Linked DNA regions of Homo sapiens. The main gene of each other region encodes a partner of the protein of the gene in region 3 in a complex. Each region holds a gene or a part of one and is shown on either strand. Other genes may lie near its edges. The genes, in order: CNOT11, CNOT2 and CNOT6L.

Region 1 (7,000 bases), on a different chromosome or scaffold from region 3:
CCAGCACTTTGGGAGGCCAAGGCAGGCAGATCACTTGAGGCCAGGAGTTGGAAGCCAGCCTGGCCAACATGACGAAACCCCATCTCTACCAAAAAATACAAAAATTAGCCCGGCATGATGGTGCACTCCTGTAATCCCAGCTACTCAGGAGTCTGAGGCAGGAGAATTGCTTGAACCTGGGAGGCGGAGGCTGTAGTGAGCTGAGATCGCGCCACTGCACTCCAGCCTGAGCAACAGAGTGAGACTGCCTCAAAAAAAAAAAAAATAGTGTAGAAGTTGAGGGATTTTGTGCAACCGGGGTGTAGGGTACATGGATGGGAGAGAAGGTCAAGAAGTGAGATTAGGAAGGTGTGGTGGGACCAGATTTTGAAGGGTCTTGTAATGGTGTAGAAATCTGGGTTTAATTCTGTGTACACAGGTTAAGTAATGTGATCAGATTTGTACTCTAGAGATATAACTAAATGGTAAGAGGAAGTATGGACTATGGGTGGTGGGTGAGCAGGGGTCAAAACTGGGAGCTGGGGAAGTCAGTAGAGGGGGCAGGAGTAGTCCCAGCAAGAGAGGCGTGGGGACTACATCTGAGGGAATGCAGCCTGGTGACATTTCTGCAGTGGGAGAGATGAGGCTTCATGAGCAATTAAACATGGGACAAAAGGGAAGGAACATTCAGCCTTGTGGGAATTTGTAGCTGCATTGTGTGTTGAATCAGGTAGTGTATTTGGATAGCTGCTGGTTGCTCTTCTATTTATTCAACTTCTACACAGTGGAAACAGAGAAGAAAGAAAAGCATTTCCGAGCACTATAGTGTTGTCTGTTTTTGTTTGCATATATAAGCTTTAGCCTTTGCAGGAATTGAGGCACTTTAGAAAATGCAGTTATTGGGCCAGGCGTGGTGGCTCACGCCTGTAATCCCAGCACTTTGGGAGGCCGAGGTGGGTGGATCTCGAGGTCAGGAGATCAAGACCATCCTGGCTAACACGGTGAAACCCTGTCTTTACTAAAAAGTACAAAAAATTACCTGGGCGTGGTGGCGGGCGCCTGTAGTCCCAGCTACTCGGGAGCCAGAGGCAGGAGAATGGCGTGAACCCAGGAGGCAGAGCTTGCAGTGAGCCGAGATTGCACCACTGCACTCCAGCCTGGGCGACAGAGCGAGATTCCATCTCAAAAAAAAAAAGAAAAGAAAATGAAGTTACTAATGTGAGAGTTAAAGAGGAAAGAAACACCAGGCGGGGCACGGTGACTCATGCCTGTAATCCCAGCACTTTGGGAGGCTGAGGCGAGTGGATCACCTGAGGTCAGGAGTTCAAGACCAGCCTGGCCAACATGGTGAAACCCCGACTCGACTAAAAATACAAACATTAGCTGGGCATGGTGGCAGGTGCCTGTAATCCCAGCTACTTGGGAGGCTGAGGCAGGAGAATCTCTTGAACCCGGGAGGTGGAGGTTGCAGTGAGCCAAGATCATGCCATCACACTGCAGCCTGGGAGACAAGAGTGAGACTTCATCTCAAAAAAAAAAAAAAAGCCACAAAACGCAGCTTGGCAGTCAAAGACAGATTTTCTTTAGTTAGAACCTGAGAAGCACTCCTGGCCGATGTTTTAACTAAAGAAAACCTGTCTTTGACTGCCAGGCTGCGTTTTGTGTTTCTTTCCTCTTTCTTTAACTCTTACAGTTAACAAGTACAAAAACCTTAAGTTTCATTTGTAGGGCCACAGATCATAGAATTTCAAATGACATATTACATAGTTTGTAAATGTATATATTTGGTTGACTGAAACTTAATCATAATTTAGTTCTTAAAACTATGTGGCTTGAAGTGGCAAGTAGCAAGTACTGATTTTACCAGATTCAAGTTGATTTTTAAAAGTAACCATTGGAGAAATCGTTATACATTTTTGTTTGCAGGATTTTTACCTCCTATAACTCCACCAGAAAAGTTTTTTCTTTCCCAGCTGATGCTGGCACCCCCACGGGAACTCTTCAAAAAGACGCCTCGCCAGATTGCACTGATGGACGTTGGAAACATGGGCCAGTCTGTGGACATTAGTGGGCTTCAGTTAGCCTTGGCCGGTAAGGAGGAATCAGTGTTTTGGGCATTTCTGTGTGGTAATATTAGGCCTCTCTTGTTGAGGACTCTACTAAAATGATGTTTTTTGTAACTGCTAAAAGGTTAGTATCATCCATTTTAAAAAGTAGTTTTAGTACTGGATCTTAAATGGAAGTCTTGGCTGGGCACGGTGGCTCACACCTGTAATCCCAGCACTTTGGGAGGCTGAGGTGGGCAGATCATTTGAGGTCAGGAGTTTGAGACTAGCCTGGCCAGCATGGTGAAACCCTGTCTCTACTAAATATACAAAAAATTAGCCAGACATGGTGGTGCAGCACGCCTGTAATCCCAGCTACTCAGGAGGCTGAGACAGGAGAATAGCTTGAACCCGGGAGGTGGAGGTTGCAGTGAGCTGAGAACAAACCACTGCACTCCAGCCTGGGCTACAGTGAGACTCCATCTCAATAAATAAATAAATAAATAAATAAATAAATAAATAAATAAATGGAACTCTTTAAATTTTTGGATGCTAATAGCATGTAAATTCATTTGGAGTTTTCACTTGAATTGATTGCTTTTTCTGTTTTAGAAGAAAGCTGGATAAAATTTAGTGGGTTTTTTTTTAAGTTTTGATTGGAAGACTTACTATTTGTTAAAATGTCAATACTACCCAAAACAATCAACAGATTTGGTGCAATTCCTGTCAAAATTCCAACAGTGTTTTTTGCAGAAATAGAAAAATCCGGCCAGTCACAGTGGCTCACACCTGTAATTGGGAGGCTGAGGCACAAGAATCACTTGAACCTGGGAGCTGGAGGTTGCAGTGAGCTGAGATTGTGCAACTGCACTTCAGCCTGGGTGACAGGGCGAGAGTCTGTCTCAAAAAAAAAAAAAAAAAGAAAAATCCATCTTTAAACCAAAGAAAGGCTGGCATAGTAGCTCATGCCTGTAATCTTTGGGAGAGGCCAAAGTGGGAGGATCGTTTGAGGGCAGGAGTTCAAGACTAGCCTGGGCAACATAAGGAAACTTTGTCTCTGCAAATAATTAAAAACTTAGCCGGGCGTGGTGGTGCATGCCTGTGGTCTCAATTACTTGGGAGGCTTAAGTGGGAGAATCACTTGAGCCTGGGAGATCGAGGCTGCAGTGAGCTGTGATTGCGCCACTGCACTCCAGCCTGCACAATATCGTGAGACCTGTCTCGGGATGCTGAATAGCCAAAACCCAACGTTCTCTTGGCATCCTTGTTGAAAATCATTTGCCCATATATGCAAGGGTTTATTTCTGGGCTTTCTATTCCATTCTATTTGTCTATATGTCTGTCTTTCTGCCAGTACCACACTGTTTTGATTACTGTAGCTTTGTACTAAGTTTTGAAATCGGGAGGTATGAGACTTTCAACTTTGTTCTCGTTCAGGATTGTTCTGGCACATTCTGTGTTAAACCTGTAAGCAAATGAATGAGTGCTCTTGAAGTAAACAGTGTGTCCTGACAGAAAATAATAGGAGAAGGAGAACTGGTGGTCAGAGAGAGGCTCTCTGAGTTCTGAAGGAGTAGAGGAGGCACTTTGGGCTTGCCTGCTGTCAGCATTCATTTTCTCACTTGAGAGCAACTCAACAGGGAAATTGTAATATGTAGCTGGGTTTGTGAACCCTTGACTTTGTAATTAAGTAAGCTGAAGTATTTTGACAATGCCCCATCCTTCTTAGACTTCATAAACCTGTGACATTTGGCTTCTGATATAAGGTGACATGTTGCAGTAAACAGCTTTTCCTTTGCAACATTGTGAACCTTTAAACTATTGGGTATTAACAATATAACAATGGGGCCAGGCACAATGGCGCATACCTATAATCCCAGCAGTTTGGGAGGCCAAGGCATGAGAATCACTTGAGCCCAGGAGTTTAAAACCAGCCTGGGCAACATAGGGAGACCCTGTCTCTACAAAAGTAATTAAAAAAATAAAAATTACCTGGGTATGGTGGTGTGTGCACTTGTGGTCCCGGCTACCCAGGAGGCTGACATAAGAGGATCACTTGATCCTGAGAGGTCAACGCTACAATAAGCCATGATTGTACTACTGCACTCCAGCCTGGGCAACAGAGTGAGACCCTGTTACAAAAGCAGAGACAAGAACAATGTAACAATGGTTATGTTCTGAAACCAAAAGAAATCTTTTTAAGACTTTTTAAGGTTGTACTAATAAGTACAAAAGTACTAGCCACTAGTGCCAGATATAATTTAATAGAAATAAAATGATTACTTTTATTTATTCCTGACAAACACCAAAGATACTTTGAAAACTGGATACAGAAGTGATGTATTCTGATGGTTCTAGCTTAGTATTTATTATAATATTTATTTATAGTATTTAAATAGTAATTTTTTTTATCATAATAAAGTGAGAATCACATCTGACCTTCCTTTTAACTTGGGATGCCTTGAGTAGCCGTAAGAAAGTTGTGAAGTATATCACGTGGAGGAAGGATCACATGTCTAGAGTAAGGGCTGAGAAGCCTGGCCGAGTGGCTAAGCTTGCTGCCTGCCGTCCTCTACCCAGATTGCAGATGTCCGGATCCATTCCTCTTCACAAGTGTAAAGAAAAAGCAAGCATGCCTCCACTCTGGAGCTAGCCACCCAGATCTTCTCTCTGGAGGTCTAAAATTCAGATGTCTTCCAGTGGCATCCGTGGACCAAAGGTGTATTTTTGGATGATGCAGTTTGTGTTTTCTTAACTTTAAAAAAACAAGTAGACAAGTTAAACATAAGTGACTACAAGGGGTGAAGTTTTACCCTAACAATGAGTTTTCATTTCAGAGGTTTTGTTTTTCTTTATGATTTATTCCTGACAAACACCTACCACTTACTAGTTTACCAAACAGCTGGCCAATTTATCTTTTTTTTTTTTTCACATTTTGGTTGATAATATGTTATCTAACTTTTTGTACTTCAACAATCTGAGATTTTTTTAAATGGCATTACAGGATAATTTTAGTGAGCATTTCTCCTAGTAAGTGGATGAGAAAAGATGCTATATGTCTAAGGCATCTTTTCATATGTCTCTGGCCATTTTTCCATTGGGTTGATGGTCTTTTATTGATTTGTATAGTTCTTTAATCAGGAATTTAGCCCCGTGTTTTTAAAATTACACAATCTGAAGTGAAACATGCATTCACTTTTTAAAGGAATTATAATTAAGTGAACCAGGAGCAACCTGCCATCCAAGTTAAGAAAGAGAATATTTTCAGGGCCTACAGGCTCCCTGTTTCTCCCAGTGGCTGCCTCATCACTAACCTGATTTTTGTGATAATCATCCTCAATTTGCTTCCCTCCTGTGCCTGCCTATAGTTTCACTTTGCATGCCCTTGAACTTTATACATGTGGAATTGTACTGCATTTATTCTCTTGTGCCTTCCTTCTGTTGGGGGTTGACAGATGAGTCCATGCTGATGGCGTGTAACTGCAGTGGCTGCCCTTCATTGCTGCTGTGGTACCTTCACACTGTGGAGTACCAAGTTCTGTGTCCATTCTGTTGTTGATGGACATAATACTGCTGTGAACATTCTTGCACATTATTCTGGGGCGCGTGTGAAAGTGTGTCTCCTAGATGGAAAGAAATGCACATGTAAACATTATAAAGAAACATCAAATTATTTTCCAAAGTTGCTTTGCCATTTTTCACTCCTGTAGCACCATGCAAGTTACCTTACATCCTCTTCAGCATTTGGTAATGTCAAGTTTATACATTTTTGCCAATCTGGTGGGTATGTTATAGTATCTTGTGTTTTAACTGGATTTTCCCTAGTTCCTAATGGGATTAAATATCTTTTCAGATTTTTTTGGCCATTCAAGCTTTTTAAACAAAATCCTTATTAAAGTTACTAGTCCATTTTTTCCTGTTGGTTTCTTTCTTTCTTTTTTTTTTTTTTTTTTTTGAGATGGAGTCTCGCTCTGTCGCCCAGGCTGGAGTGCAGTGGCGCGATCTTGGCTCACTGCAAGCTCCGCCTCCCGGGTTCATGCCATTCTCCTGCCTCAGCCTCTCGAGTAGCTGGGACTACAGGCACCTGCCACCATGCCCGGCTAATTTTTTGTATTTTTTTAGTAGAGACAGGGTTTCACCGTGTTAGCCAGGATGGTCTCGATCTCCTGACCTCGTGATCTGCCTGCCTCGGCCTCCCAAAGTGCTGGAATTACAGGCATGAGCCACTGCGCCTGGTGGGTTCTTTCTTTTTTTAAAACATTGATTTAAAAATATATGTACAGTAAGTCATCACTTAACATCACTGACGGGTTGTTGGAAACTGCAGATTTAAGTGAAGTGATGTACAGCAGGTCCTTGAATAACACTGTTTCATCAACATTGTTTTATTATAACATTGATAAAAATAGTTGTTTTGTTACACGTCACTTCACTTAGTGGCAGATTCCAAGAACCTTTCAACAACGCTAAGTGAGGACCTGCTATACGTACAGACATACACACATTTTCTCTCTCTCTCTGAATCTGGCCCTTTGTTTTTCTCTGTTACAGATAGCTTGCCTCAGTTGGTAGCTTGTCTTTTCTCTCTCCTCATGATGTCCATAATTTTAAAATGTCTCCTATTTCCAGAACGCCAATCTGAATTGCCAACGCAAAGCAAAGCGAGCTTCCCCAGTATTCTCAGTGACCCAGACCCGGATTCTTCTAATTCTGGATTTGACAGCTCAGTTGCCTCTCAGATCACAGAAGCTTTAGTCAGCGGACCAAAGCCACCTATTGAAAGTAGGTACATATAAATTAATTTATACTCTTTGTTTTATTCTGTCAGCAGGATCCTCTAGGACTTTTCAGTTTTTGAGACATCATTTTATTTTTATTATGACTTAAATTGTAATTTAGTGTGAATCTTTCTAGTGTAGTGAGTGTCTAGAACATAGTAGAGATGTTCAGTGACAGTTAATTTCTTCTTTAAGAAA
Region 2 (7,683 bases), on a different chromosome or scaffold from region 3:
CAGAGTCTTGCTCTGTCACCCAAGCTGGAGTGCAGTGGCATGATCTCAGCTCACCGCAACCTCCGCCTTCCGGGTTCAAGCGATTCTCCTGCCTCAGCCTCCAAGTAGCTGGGACTACAGGCGTGCACCACCACACCTAGCTAATTTGTTTGTATTTAGTAGAGACGGGGTTTCACCATGTTGGCCAGGCTGGTCTCAAACTCCTGGCCTCAGGTGATCCACCCGCCTTGGCCTCCCAAAGTGCTGGGATTACAGGCATGAGCCACTGCACCCAGCCTGCTTATGACACATTTCTAAAAGAATCGCTGGGTCAAATGCACATGGCTCAAGGCTTTTGATACATATTGCCAAACTGCACTCTAGAAAAGTGCTGCCAACATACACTCTCAGCAATATAAGCAGCCCTGTTTCTCTGAATCCTTGCCAGTATTATCAAGAAATAACCACTTGTTAAAATAGTGCCTGAAGACTAAATTAATGTTTAACATGTTTTGTCACTCATAAGTTGGGCTTACTATTAAACTTTTAACTGTTATAGTATTACCATTCAAAGCTTACACATATTTAAGATGAAGAAACTGAGGTCTAGTAAATTATAATTCAGACCCCTTTTAGTGTGAATTTTAGCCCTGGATATACTGCAGTGCAGTCTTTTTTTTTTTAACTTGTACTAGCCTTACAGATTTCCCAGAAAAAGGTAGACATCTTCTTTATTAAGTTGGAGGTCAGGAATATCCTATTAGTTTAGTACTGTTTTTCCTGTTTCCTAGATTGGATTTTACAAATTTTGTGTTAAGGATATCTGTTGACATTTACTCATTTATTATTTAAAAAGTCTAGCTAATCTTGGATAAGAATTTTGTTGATTCATTCACTCACTAATTTAACAGCATTTATCTAATGCCTACCATGTGTGAAGGATAAAGTAGTGGAAAAAAACAGGTGTAGTTTATATTTTTGTAGGGTGAAGGGAGGTAGAAAATAAACAGTGAATAAACAAGATAATGATAAATTATAAATGCTATTAAGAAAATAGAGGGGCACGTGATTGACAGAGAATAAATGGGAACGTGAGCTATTTTAGATACGGTGGCCAGGGAAGGCCTGTCAGAGATATTTGGGTTAACCTGAAGGAAGAGAATGAGTCAGCCATATCCAAGACAGAAGACCACATCCCAGGCAGAAAAAAAATAAATAAATAAAAAATAAAAAGCAAGTGCAAAGGCCCTGAGACAGAGTATCAGGTAAGATTAAATTCAGTTGAGAACAAGAGACTCCAAAATAGTGGCTTTAATAATATAGACATTTACGACTGCAGGGCTAGCATGGTGCTCTGATCCATAAAGTTCTCACAGACCCTGGTTTCCACCAGTTTAGTTTTGCCATCCCTAGAATGAGAGAACTTGCATGAGGCACAAATTGGCAGCTACAGTTCTAAGCCATCACATCTATATTCCACGGTACAGGATAAAGGAAAAGCCGCATTGAAGGTGTGCACCAACTATCTTTTAAGGATGGTTTTACAAGTGTGCCACATGATATACTGCTTACATCCCATCAGCCAGCACTATTACATGGCTACAAGGAAGGCTGCAAAATATAGTCTTTGTTCTGGGTAGCCATGTATCCATGTCTATTACTATGAAAAAAATGGAGGAATTTTTGGGGACAACTAACAGACTCTGCTACAGACTAGAAAAAGCACAGCCCACGACAGAAAGGAGGCAGTAAGAAGGGTGAGAACAACTTCCTGTGCTGCTTCCTGGGAAGATGGAGAAGTGGGCAGGAGCCAGATTATGCAGTCTTGAAGGCTATGGTAAGGAATTCCGATTTCATTCTGTGTGCATAAGGAAGCTATTGGAGGGTTTTAAACAAGGGAGTGACATAACCTAATAACATTTTTTAAGTGATTGCTTTGGTTGGTATATAGAGAATGGTTTAAATGGGAAAATATTCATGAGGGTACAGATAGAAAGTGATAGCAACTAGTGTGGTTATTGCTGTGGTCCAGCAACAGATGATGGTGGCTCCCAAGGGTTGTACCAGTGGAAGTGATAAGTAGCTAAATTCAGAATGTATTTGTCAGGAAGAACTGATGGTACTGTCTGATGAGTTGTATGAGTGTGAAGAATCAGAAAATTCCAAGTTTTATGCCTGAGCAAATAAGTGAATGGTGGTACTATTTATGAAAATCAGGAATTCTAAAGGAGCAGCAGATTTAGGGAATGAACAAAGGGGATTCAAATGTTGTTTCAGACACATTAGAGAAGCCTGTCCTTTTTATCCCTTGCCATGGCAAAATTTTCAATACCATCCATATTTTTCTAAAAATGGGTGGCCTCCTTCTTCTACAAGTTATACACAAACTCATTCTTCCCTTAATAGGGTATTTTTTTTCCCTCAACGTCTGTAATTTTTAAATAAAGTGTACAGAGAATTTAACATAATACATATTTTGGAAATATACAAAACATGTGCCTATTAGTAAGGACTACTTTTCAGGTAAAAGTAAGAAAATCTAGTAAGATAGTTAAAAGAAACCAAACTACCAAATGGGCAAACTTAATCAACATTACCAATAAAGATGAACTTTTTGATGCAACAGGACAATTTAAAAAATATACCATCTATTGGTAAGAACTCTTACTATAAGAATTCTTACTATACAAGCCTTTAACAAATGCTAGCTCATTAAATACCTAGAGTACCCTCTAAGGTAGGTATTAAAAATTTTTTAACAAATTTATAATAGATTTGGCACAAATAATAGGACAATTAAAGGCTTGTTCTTCAACCCGGCTTAAAGTGAATTCATCCTAAACAAATAGGTGTTCAGTGAGAGTCAAAGTAAGTAGTATCAAATATTGAAAGTAATAGTATCAGTGTATTTTCTCCTAACACTCCTAACCCACACATTTATTATGAAAATGTTTGTTGTTCTATCTCTTCCAGTAAAATACTCAAGGTAATAAAACTCTCATATCAGACTTACACCCTCTGGAAGTCATTCCATAGAGGTATATTCAATCTTTTAACACACCATCTTATGGTTGAAGATGTTAACATGAGAAGGAGGAGAAAGCAGGAAGAGGAAGGGACTATTTGCAGAAGACGGGGAGAAAGAAAGGAAAGACACTAGTATGTGTTGTTCCTCCTCGAATTTTCCTGAAGTGAAAAAAAAACAGTGAAGTAGAGTGTTTGATGAAATGAATAACCAAGCAAAACATTTTCTACCTACACCAGTACCACTAGGAGTTGAAATAAATTCACACAATGTCTGCTGATATGTCAAAACACCTTACCTTCAAAAACATGACAGTTACCTTTTATTTTATAGTATGCTTGTGTTTCTTCCTATTTCTTGCTTTTGACCTTCAATGATAAATGTAAACTGGATTACAGTGATTCTTTTGTAAGTAAAAGGTGACTTTTTAAAAGAAACAACCAATGGAAATAGAAATTTTATTTACTTCAAATTAACTGTACTTTACTCAAATAGAAAAGAATAATTTTCACATTATGAAGCTACACAATTCCAAAATACACATGCTGAGGCTCTTTTTAAGTCCGAATTGTCTAGTAATTACAAAAAAGTGAAGAGTTTACAGATATACAAGGAAATAAAGGCGAATTATTGCAAAGAAAACAAGTTTAATTTCACTTTGAATGACAACGATTTTTCTGGAAAGCAGATACTTCACTCCTTTAAGTTTCCACCCAAGCCACAATAATTTCAAACGGTCTTGCGGATGACCCAGCTGGTCACTCTTGTTTATGTGGGGACTGGAGGTAATGAGAGCCAAAAAAAGTGCTATAAACCTAATTTGGCTAGAGCAAGTTCACACGACACGACCGTGCTTTAAAAACTTGCTCTCCATTATGTACTTCCTTCCATCAGGTTGGGGAAAAAAAAATGGTGGGGATGGTGAGTAAACACACCAGTGGTTTCATCAGAGGGGAACTCACTACTCAGGAGGTGACGGTGACGTGGTGCCGGTCCCTGAAGTACGCGCACAAGCTCCGGAGGTTGCGGGAGCTGAGGGAGGAAACAGGGACACGATCAGATTCGCTCCAGGTGGCGGGAGTGAGGAGGGGAGGAGTGACGAGGCGGACGTGCGGGGGCGGGGGTGTCCAACACAAACACAAACACAAACACGAACACGAACACGCTCAGCGTCCCCGGGGAGGGCGGACTGAAGCCACCTCACCATTCATCGCCCCTGGACCCCGCAGTCCCCCTCGGACTCAGGGCCAGAGCCTTCTGCGAAGCAACCTAGCCCCAGGGAAACGGTAGCGGCCGCAGAAGCCCCGCTCTCTGTAACGGCCGCGGAGGAGCAGCAAGCCTCCCTGTGAGTCGGTGGGAGACAAGACGGAGCGGCGGTAAGGGCGGTAGGGAAGTGAAGCGCCTCTCTCCACCTTGTTAGAAGCGCGCTGAAAGCGGCCTGCCTACCCACCCCATCGCTGCCGTTTTGCAGTCGTCGCTCCCACCTTCCGCTGCCGCCTGGAGGGAAGCCGGAGCGACGGGGGTCACGGCGGCGGTCAGAGGGTAAAGGTCTTGCTCCCAGCAGCCTCCGCGGTGGATACGTCGCCATCTTGGATCCGCGGGACAAGAAAATTCATGCGGTGAGTTTTTGGTAAATTTTCGGAAGTCTGGCAGCGGGGCGCGCGGCGGGGGCGGCAGATTCGGGGCCCCCGCAAGGCGGGGGAATGCCCCGGGGCCGGTCCGGTCGCGCCCAGGGTCCGCCGGTAGCGTCCCGGCCCACCGCTTCCCGTTGCTTTTGTCTCGGCTCCAATCGAGAGACGGAGAGCGGAGCGGGCGGGGAGGGGGGTGGCGGCGGTGGAGGGAGGGAGGGGGTGTGTATGGGGGTGGTGGTGGACCGGACGTAAAGCGTCGCTGTACTCGGGCCGCTGCAGCAGCAGCAGCTCCAGATCCTAGGCCCGGTCCCATCCGCGAGTGGTGGGGCTTCCCCAGACTCCACTCCCCTAGGCTCCCGCCAGCGCGGAGGAGCCGCTGCCGCCGCGCTGCTTCCTGGGGGAGAAGAGAAGGCGGCAGCGGCCGTGGCCGTGGCCGACGAGCTCGAGCCCGCTTTAGACGGCTCTGCCGCCTTCCCGGCAGCTGGTGCTGTCTGTGGCTTCTTACCTTCTCTCAATACACGTATATCATCTGCCAGTTATGTGTATTTCTGTTAGTGTGTTTGCAAGTGTCAGATGGGAGACACTGGACTGGCTAACGGGTGTCAGGATCCTGCAGGCCCTGGGATACCGAAGGCTGTGCATGGTGGAGGGAGAAGGAATGCAACTGCGATGCCGCCTCTGCCACCGCACCAGGAAGGTGAAGCTTCCGTAGTGTCGTAGACTGAGTCCGGATGATCCTGGGGCGGCGGAGGAACCACAGACGCTTCTGTCTGTGAAGTTGCAAGTCCTGGGTTTCTACTTCCGCAGGGGCCTCTCCACCTTTTGCTGTCGTAGGTCTCGCTTAAAAGTTTAACAGAAGAAAAGAGTAGGGTTAAAAGAGGCCTTTGTAGTTCTTCATTGAAGCACTGTTGTCTGTCCGGGTGAAAGCTGATAACTCTTGGTAACTGTGGTCCTTAGCAAAAGAGAATTGGAGTTTTCTTTTATACAAAGTATTTCCAAGGTTTTAGACCTTATATTTATTCCAGGCCTGTAGGTACGGTATTACTACCACAAAAGTCTTACATTAAGGGTACCACCCTCTCAGAGGGAACCTAAACATCAACTTCCTTCGAATCCTTGGAGACATCTTCACTTTTCAACATCCGGAAGACTGAGTGCAACATATTTTGTTTCATTTTCATAAAAGTCTTGGTCAGAGAATCCCACTCCTTTTAAAATCGTTTGGGCAATTCCTCATAATTAAGTACACTGCTTTGAACCCTTAGTTCTTGGCGAAATGGTAAAAAGTACTCAGTTAAAATCAGTTCACGAGGGAGGCCAACTTGAATTTAAGGTTCAAAGTTGAACATATTTAGTGTCATGCTTAATATTAGGAATTTTTAGAGCTCGGAATCATAAGTGTGACTGTTGATTTCCCTTTTGAAGCAATATAAATGGAAAGAATAAAGTATGGGGTGAGGGATGAGATAGAAATTTTAAAGTATCCATTTACATGCAAGGTTGATGTTGAGTTTGGGAATGCTTGGCATAATTGACAACAGTTCTTTCCAAACGTCAATGAATAAATCTCACAATTTTGTAAGGTAACTATTGCAGATTGAAAGGGTTAAGAATCATAGTTGGCTGAAATGGTTAAGTGTCTATATTCACATCCCAGTTCATTGAAATGTTTTATAATGGACCAAGATAATTAGTAAGCTCTGTATGTTGAATTTGTTTAGTTTGTAGTTCTATTATAATGTTAAATCTAAAGAAAAAAATACAAAATACACTTAAAGACAAAACATGTTCCACTCTACTCACTTATTTCTTGACTTTGTAAGATCCTTACTGTAAAAAAGGTACTTTTCTCTCATATTTTCTGAGAGCTTGAATTGTAATAATTTTTGTGAATACTTTGTATTTTAGAGAGGAAGTGAGAAACTGCTGAAGTTTTTTTTGCATCTTGATTAGTGCTTTATCAATACAAATAAGTTAATGTAAACATTTGTTGGCAGGAATCTTTTTCTAAGTATACAATGTAGAGATATCTGTAACCTAATCTGATCTCAGGGAATGAGAATTGCCTGTTTAACCAAGCAACAAATACAGCCTATACAATTTTTCAATTTCTATAATACTTTAATTTACATGGTGGAAAAATGAGGGCAAAATGCTTGTGTATGAGTGATTTATATCCCCAAGTACCTGCTCTTGAAGATAAAACTCAGATTGTGGCTTATCTTCTGATGCTGGGCAAAAAACAAAAACAAAAAAATTCAGAATGATACAACTTCCCATATACCTCCCTACAAGAACTAATTACCTTTGTTTTTGCTTTATAACTTTGGATGTTGCACTTTTTGATTTTTCAGAGATGCTTTACAGTTATTGTAATCTGAAAATTATTTGTTCAAAAGTAAATAAAATTTTCAGGTGTATGAATAGATTTTATTAGAAGTGATTCTAACCCAGTTCTCATTTGTATTCCTTTAGTAGATACTGGTGTTAAAAGTACCTGTATTTTGAAAGACCATTACAGAATTTTTTACAACCTGTATAAGTTATAGTTTTATCTTTTCTAGTGACAGACTTACTTCATAAGATTTTCTGATAATATGAATAAAATGTATGCTTCACATGTATATATGAAATAATGAGTAAGCATTAATAGACCAATGAAAAGAACTTAGCTTACAATTTATTTTCTTGCTCTTTAAAAGCAGTGGTAAATAATAGCTTTTTTTTGTTGTTAAAATTTGTAACTGTAGAAAGTTCATTCTGTTGGGATCACATATTTGAAGGCAAACTAACAATGCCATGTGCTTGCTTGAATAGGCATTTGAGGACAGGTTATTTTCCTGAGATTTCAGGAAAATATACCACCAAACATTTATGATGTTATTTGTTACCTGGATCTGTAGTGGATTTTGTAACACAAAGAGGCAGAATATCCAGGGTACCAGGTAGGGCAGTTTAGGGGCAGAGTTAATATGAGGTGTACTGTAATGTTTGAGTGGAATTACATACAGTGTTAATCAAGAGATCTAGTGCTATGGTAGAACTTAT
Region 3 (7,166 bases):
TATTCTGTACCAGTTTTTCATGTATGATTAAACAGTCATCAGTGAAGATGAGGAATTATCAGATACTCTGATTACAGAAGAAAGAGACTGAGAGTAAGTACAGTGTTGACTACTCTTCCACAGTTATCTTTGTTAGTTTTGTAACCTCTACAAAAATGATCTTACAAGATAAGAATATACAAATGAAGAAACAGGTCCAGAAATGCTAAGTCTTTCAACATTATATAGCTAAATAAATAGAAGAAGCACCTGGCTTCAAAACTCACAGTCTTTTTTTGCCCTATATTTCCAGTCTGAAGAAAGAATAAAGGCAGGGTATAATACTTTAAATTCCAAATAGTTGGCACTGAATAGTCAGCTAAGACATGGATAAATATCTGGTACTGGGACAGAAGGTGGTTTTGTTCTACCTATAGGAGGTATATAGTCCTGTCATTCCAGGAAAGAAGTTGAAAAGAGGTACAATATACTGATGTATCACATTCAATCTGTTGCCAGATCCATGTTACTATTCAGGAAAAAAGAGTTGAGGAAGAAAAGAAAAACAGGTGACACATCTAAGTACTTCCTATGTGCTCATTACTTAACTAGTTCACAGCATTTTTAATAATTCAAGAATCAATTTGCAAATACCCAGATAACAGTTCTAACTGTTATTTCAAAGCCTTAACTACTTCTAGTAAATTGTTAAGGAATTTTAGATTTTTCCTCTCAAAACTGTGAGAGTAATAATAAAAATCTTCCATATTATCTTGAAAGAAACTATAGCAAATAGAAAAAGAGCCTGATGTTAGATGTCTCAAGTTTACTGGTGCATTTTTTTTTTAAGCTATGGTGTTTCAAGGGGATTTGTGTATGAACATAGGTAACAAATATCGTCAGGCACGGTGGCTTACGTCTGTAATCCCAGCACTGTGGGAGGCTGAGGCGGGTGGATTGCTTGGACCCAGGAGTTCAAAACCAGCCTAGGGCAACACAGCAAGACCCCATCTCTACAAAAAATACAAAAATTAGTTAGGTGTGGTGGCATGCACGTGTAGTCTCAGCTACTCAGGGTGCTGAGGTGACAGAATCACCTGAGCCTGGGGAGGTTGAGGCTGCAGTGAGCCATGATCGCCACTGCACTCCAGCCTGGGTGACAGAGTAAGACTCTGAGACCCTGTCTAAAAACAAAAACAAATGTCAAATTCAGGGCAATTTTTCTAAATGAGGTAATCTTATAAGAGGTATTAGTGATATCAAAAGCTCAAACAAGAAGGCTAAAGATTCAGTTTATTACAGTAGTTAAAAGCATGGACTATGAAATCAGACTGTGTAACTGGAACTAGTTATTGAACTTGTCTGTACCTTGGTTTCCTCATCTTTAAAAACAAGGAAATAGCTGTATAGCTGCCTGTAAGAGTTGCTTTAAAATTTGAACAAGACAACTAATATAAACAATTCGAAAAGGCTGACAGATGGCAAACACTCTGGAAGTACGGTCATATACCATATAACAAGATTTCAGTCAACAAGGGACTACATGCCGATGGTAGTCCCACAAGACTATAATGGAGCTGAAAAATTCCTATCACCCAGTGATGATGTAGGTGTCTTAACATCACAGCACAATACATTACCTTTTTTACGTCTAGATATGTTTAGACTCAAATGCCATTGTATTACAATTGTCTATTTACTACAGTAACATGCTGTACAGGTTTCTAGCCTGGGAACAACAGGCTATACCTTATAGCCTAGGTGTATAGTGCTGTACCATCTAGGTTTGTGTAAGTGCACTTCATGATGTTCCCACAACAACAAAATCACCTAATGATGCATTTCTCAGAACATATTCCCGTAGTTAAGAGATACGTAGTTTTAATAGAATTATTCTAAAATGCATAAAAAATTACCAAACCATTAGAAGAATTTAGTATATTCTGACCTCAAATACTACAAGGCTTTGTACTAATTATTAACCAAAATAAGAATATCTCTACTACAAATTCATGGAAAAGACAGGAAAGTAGGCATAGATAAATGGGAAGTGGACCAAATATCTTTCAAATTCATTGAATTTGTTTACTTAAAATAGCATGTCATGCTGGTAATATGCTTGGATCAATAAAAACAGATTGGCTTTGGTAAAATAGATGTAAAATGGGGAAATACTGGAAAACAGCTGTAAGCATGTATATGCTTATCCTGTAAGATGATTTCCTAACGTATGAAATCCAAACTATTAACCATGGGATTCAACCTCTATCAGATGTCACGTTTCATTTTCCATTGCCCTGTCTCAGTCAACCCTTTTAACTCTCTACCTCCATATGCTCTGTGCCTGCCTCTCTTATCTACCCAGGCAGACCTCTATCTTATATTACACCATATGATATTGCAATTGTCTTATATGCCTAGTTTTTCCTACTGGATTTGAGCTTTCAGTGAGATTAGGAACTATGTCTTGACTATCTTTGTGTCTGTTGTGTCTAGCACAGGACTTATCACAAAGCAAATGCTCAGTATACATTTAGTGAATAAATGATTTTAAAATGAATGATTCTCAAAAATCAATTATTAAAAAAAAATCACAGAAAAGAAACCCAGATCACTTATGGCCAACCTTAAAAGGTATCACTTTCTTTTTTTACACAAAAACTAATACTTTACTTCATGAAAATATGTTCTGAAATATGAGACCATTCAAGTCTGTATCTCTTAAAATGTTCAGTGTTATTTGGTAATAAAAGCATAAGGAATAATACAATAAATATCCTTATTTCGAATACACAGCCTGAGAAATGAAACATTAACAACAGTTTTAAGTTGCATAATACTTGTTTTCTAGCTTTCTGTTGATTTTATAGGGCAAAACCAAAGACAATTTTAAAGTGTAAGCATTTAAATAAATAAAAGTACACCATTGTGCTTTGTTTCCTTAACTTACTTTTCTGTTTTGAAGAATATTGCACAACCATCTACATGCTTTCTCTCCTGCTCAGACATGATTTTGGCACGTGACTTTGGAGAAAAAAATCCATCATATCCACGCTCCTTCAATGCTGGCAGAAAGAGAGTGAAGTATTGCTCTGTTTCCACTTCCTGAGATGAAAGAAAAGTTATCATCTATATGACAGAGGGAAAATGCTGATTAAGATATAAAAATGTTCAGCATTATGAGTAAGATGTAACTTAGTAAAAATAATTCACATAGCAAATATTATCTTACTATCTTACCTGATTGCTAGCAGCTGCTACTTGACAATGGCAGCTTTTTAAACATGAAAGAACCAGAAAGGTGACATGATTTTCTCATGCTCACACAGATAGTAACAGGAGTAGGACTACATCCCAAGGTCTCTTGATTCCCAATTTACAGTTCACTCCATTATACTTTACTTCCTCAAGACTGGCAACTAAACAAAGCAAGTTGGGTATATGATAGATTCTGTGATAGGGAATAGTAATTTATATATAAAAAGGTAATTTAAAAACTTGCATATCCTTCTGAACTATGGTGGAAAGAAATGATACCCAAGAGTGAGAAACGTAAAATCTATCCACAAAAAATTCTACTTTAAGAAATTTTTAAGTACCTAAATCGCAATCATCCAATGGCCTCTATTAATTTAATAATTATTAGTCTATTTTATTCTTTGACTCATAAAATATTTTAACAGGTCTTTCTAAATGAAATAAATATGAAGATAATTTATGTATGCAGATGTTTCTAACAGCATGAGTTTATGACAGCAAAAACCCATAAACAACTAAATGTGTCCAATGGTATGGGAAAAGCTACATCAATATACGTTCATATAATTAATGAGTTTTGAAGAATTTTAGTAACATGGAAAATCCATTAAGTACAATAAATAAGAATCAAAATGTATCTGTAAATATATTTTACTTAATGTATAGAAGAAAAATACTCCAGAAGTTTTAACACAACTATCTTATGACATGAAATTAGGTATTTCCCTCCATCATGCTTTATATTTTTTCAAAATTTTCAACTTCTCTAGAATGATCTCTTTTTAATACAGTATAGTATTATAGCATTGCTTTTATAATAAGACAATTTTCTTAAATTATGTTCTATCCTTCAAACTGCTATATTTAGGAGGGTGTGAGGCTGTTATCACTACAAATACTAAACCAAGAAGTAGACAAGAAACTACAATAGCCTGATTTTGTTTGCCGCCTCCTCTCCCCAATTCTCTGTTAGTCTCAGTATTTAGAAGAAATTTTATTTTAATTTTAAAAGATTTTTACTTTTTTCCCAAGCAACCTAAAAATAAATTATCAAGCTACTCTGTTACATAAAAAAATTTTTAATAATTTTTCCTCTCAGGCTATGATGAAAAGAATGTGTGAAATTGTAACACACAACTTTTTTTTTTTTTTTTTTTTTTTTTTTTTTTTTGAGACAGAATCTCGCTCTGCCATCCAGGCTGGAGTGCAGTGGTGCAATCTCTGATCACTGCAACCTCTGCTTCCTGGGTTCAAGCAATTCTCATGCCTCAGGCTCCCAAGTAGTTGGGATGACAGGTGCACGCCACCTTGCCTGGCTAATTTTTGCATTTTTAGTAGATATGGGGTTTCACCACGCTGGCCAGGCTGGTCTCAAACTCTTGACCCCAAGGGATCCACCCGCCTCGGCCTCCCAGAGTACTGGGACTATAGGCGTGAGCCACCATGCCCGGCCTGTAACACACAACATTTTTAAACACCTTTAAGAAATAGTAAGTTTCTGAGTTGATGAATATGTTAATTAGCCTCATTTGATCATTTAAAAAAATATATATGTATCAAAACATCACAATGTACCCCATAAACATATACAATTATTTGTCAATTAAAAATTTTTAAACCTTTAAGCACTTAATATGTTTTGAAAGTTGCTAAGAAAAAAGTTACTAAAAACTATTCAAACATCTTTTTGGCTAATCATTAGCTAAATTTTGAAGCAACAGAACACATTTCATGAAAAGATGCTGCTTCTTCAGTAAAGTTCAATTTATAAAGTGCTATAAAACAGAAGAATCTAAATTTCAGAGATGGTTTATAAAGTAAGGTAAGGCAAATATGCATGATTTATAGTACAATATATTAAAATATGTCTGTTTAAGGAATAACTGTGGGCAAGCTTTTTTTTTTAAAAAAAAACAGACTCCAATACAAGGTAAATTTATATTCCTAAAAGACTGGCAATCTTCTGTGGTTTTCTCTTTCAGCAATACCAATGATCATGAGGTGAATATTAACATGAACGGGTAAGATTATTTCCACTTAAGAAAACAGTAAATAAATATAAGTAGGTGGTTGTATTCAGTCAGCAAAATAGTTTCACTATGGAAATGTCTTAAATGCTTATTTAAATTGTCCATTATTTTTAAGAGGAGAGAAAACAATTCTTTTTGAGCTTTGGCTCTAAACACAGGATCTCTCCCAGTGGTCAGATCTTCTCTTATGTTTAAGTTCACCTTTTAAGTTAAAGACAGTTTAATTTCTATGGTGTTACCTGAAGACTAATGATATCTGCGTCACAGTTAACAATTTCTTCCATAATTCCCTTTTTCCTGTATTCCCAGTTTAATGCCCAGGATGGGCAATAGCCATATAGCTGCCGGGTAGCGTATTTATCACATAACACATTGTAACACATAACCGTGAATGATGCTAAGAAGTGGGAGAAAAAACAACAGACAAACGGGAGAAAATTAGGCAACTTTTTCTAAAGCAATATCATGTGTACACCTGCACAAGCACACACACATACGCCACATATCATCATTGTAAAATGCCTAGGCAAGATAAAGATTGCTAATCTACTAAAACATCATTGGAGTCTATCATACAAAATTTATTTTATTAAGTCTAGAATTAGACTAACAGCTTATATTTGAGAGTTTTAAGGAAATTTATTTTAATAAAAAATTTAAATTTTAAATCTGCTAATTTTTTGCTTATAACTTTGAGAAAAGCTTCTTTAAATGAGTGGAACAAAAGTAAACTGTAGTTGCATTTTAATTAAAGAACTCTAATCTCATTACCTCTTATTAACAAAATATCTAAGTATTTTTTGTGCCTCCTACTGCTATCATTACTTTGAAGCAGAAGAGTATGGACTAACAAAATTTAGTTGTAAGAGAATCGTTTTTGTCAATCAAATGTTCATTTCTGAAATAAAATGCTCATTTTTAAATGTCCTTTAACTATAAAAAGACTGTGAGCAAACTAATAGTAGAAGATGGTTTGCATCCTTGCTACTCAAAACTGTGCTGTGAAGACCAGCAGCATCAGTAATCAATCACCTGGGAATTTAGAAATGCAGAATCTGTGGCCCCATAAACACCTCTTTTGGACAGGATGTGCAATTTAACAAAATCTCCAGGTGATTCATATGCACTTGCATGTTAAAGTCTGAAAAGCCCTGATTTTTATCAGTAATTCTCCATCTTGGCTGCCTAGTAGAATCACTTTGTAGACCTTATAAAGAAAAATGCTGAAGTAAGGGTCTGACTCCAGACTAATTAAGTTGAAATATTAAGAGTCTAGCTATTCGTATTTTTAAAAAGGATCCCAGCATCCCAGGTGATTATAATGAACAGACATGGTTGAGAATCACTTATTTAAATAAGACGTGAGGAATTCAAAGTGAAGTGACACTTGATTGAAGTTGGTTCTGTTTCAGATGATGGAAAAGGTATTAAGAGAAACTCAGTTCAGTCCCCTGGGGGGTCTGACTGGTGACCATTTTGTACACTGGGAGCTAAATTTCAATTTGAGTTGACTTTTGTACTTTCTGAGTATTTATCTTGGAAATGACCCAGCATCATTTCCAAGCCACTACACTGTGAAGTAAGCACCCTGAATTTACCTTACTATGCTTCTCAGTATTTGAAATGTCATTTGGAAGTAAGGCGAAAGAGGCAGACTGCCATTTGCTTCATTCAGTTTTTTCCTAAGACTTTGTAAACTGAGATTTCATTAAAAAGATCAGAGATTGCAATTTTTATAATATAGCCAAAACTCTTTATATCCCTGCCAGTGCCTGAGAATGAACCAGCAATTTTTAAACAGAAGTAAAAACTACCTAAGTGTTATTACCACTCATCTCTTATACTCTGTTTCTATCTGGGACCTTTTTCATTATCTAGGCTTGATTTCCATATAGTTTA

The links.
Region 1: CNOT6L (region 3) and CNOT11 share a complex: the UniProt entries of both Homo sapiens proteins name them as parts of the CCR4-NOT complex.
Region 2: CNOT6L (region 3) and CNOT2 share a complex: the UniProt entries of both Homo sapiens proteins name them as parts of the CCR4-NOT complex.

Annotation. Positions count from the first base shown.
Region 1 is NC_000002.12:101,255,886-101,262,885, forward strand, and holds part of CNOT11 (CCR4-NOT transcription complex subunit 11), read left to right. Parts: intron 1-1,905; coding exon 1,906-2,070; intron 2,071-2,929; exon of another isoform or gene 2,930-4,156; intron 4,157-4,463; exon of another isoform or gene 4,464-5,987; intron 5,988-6,653; coding exon 6,654-6,806; intron 6,807-7,000. UniProt on the Homo sapiens protein: Component of the CCR4-NOT complex which is one of the major cellular mRNA deadenylases and is linked to various cellular processes including bulk mRNA degradation, miRNA-mediated repression, translational repression during translational initiation and general transcription regulation.
Region 2 is NC_000012.12:70,238,858-70,246,540, forward strand, and holds the start of CNOT2 (CCR4-NOT transcription complex subunit 2), read left to right. Parts: upstream 1-4,575; 5' UTR 4,576-4,623; intron 4,624-4,883; exon of another isoform or gene 4,884-5,465; intron 5,466-7,683. UniProt on the Homo sapiens protein: Component of the CCR4-NOT complex which is one of the major cellular mRNA deadenylases and is linked to various cellular processes including bulk mRNA degradation, miRNA-mediated repression, translational repression during translational initiation and general transcription regulation.
Region 3 is NC_000004.12:77,739,212-77,746,377, forward strand, and holds part of CNOT6L (CCR4-NOT transcription complex subunit 6-like), read right to left. Parts: intron 5,665-7,166; coding exon 5,507-5,664; intron 3,109-5,506; coding exon of another isoform or gene 3,085-3,108; coding exon 2,930-3,084; intron 993-2,929; coding exon of another isoform or gene 897-992; intron 1-896. UniProt on the Homo sapiens protein: Has 3'-5' poly(A) exoribonuclease activity for synthetic poly(A) RNA substrate.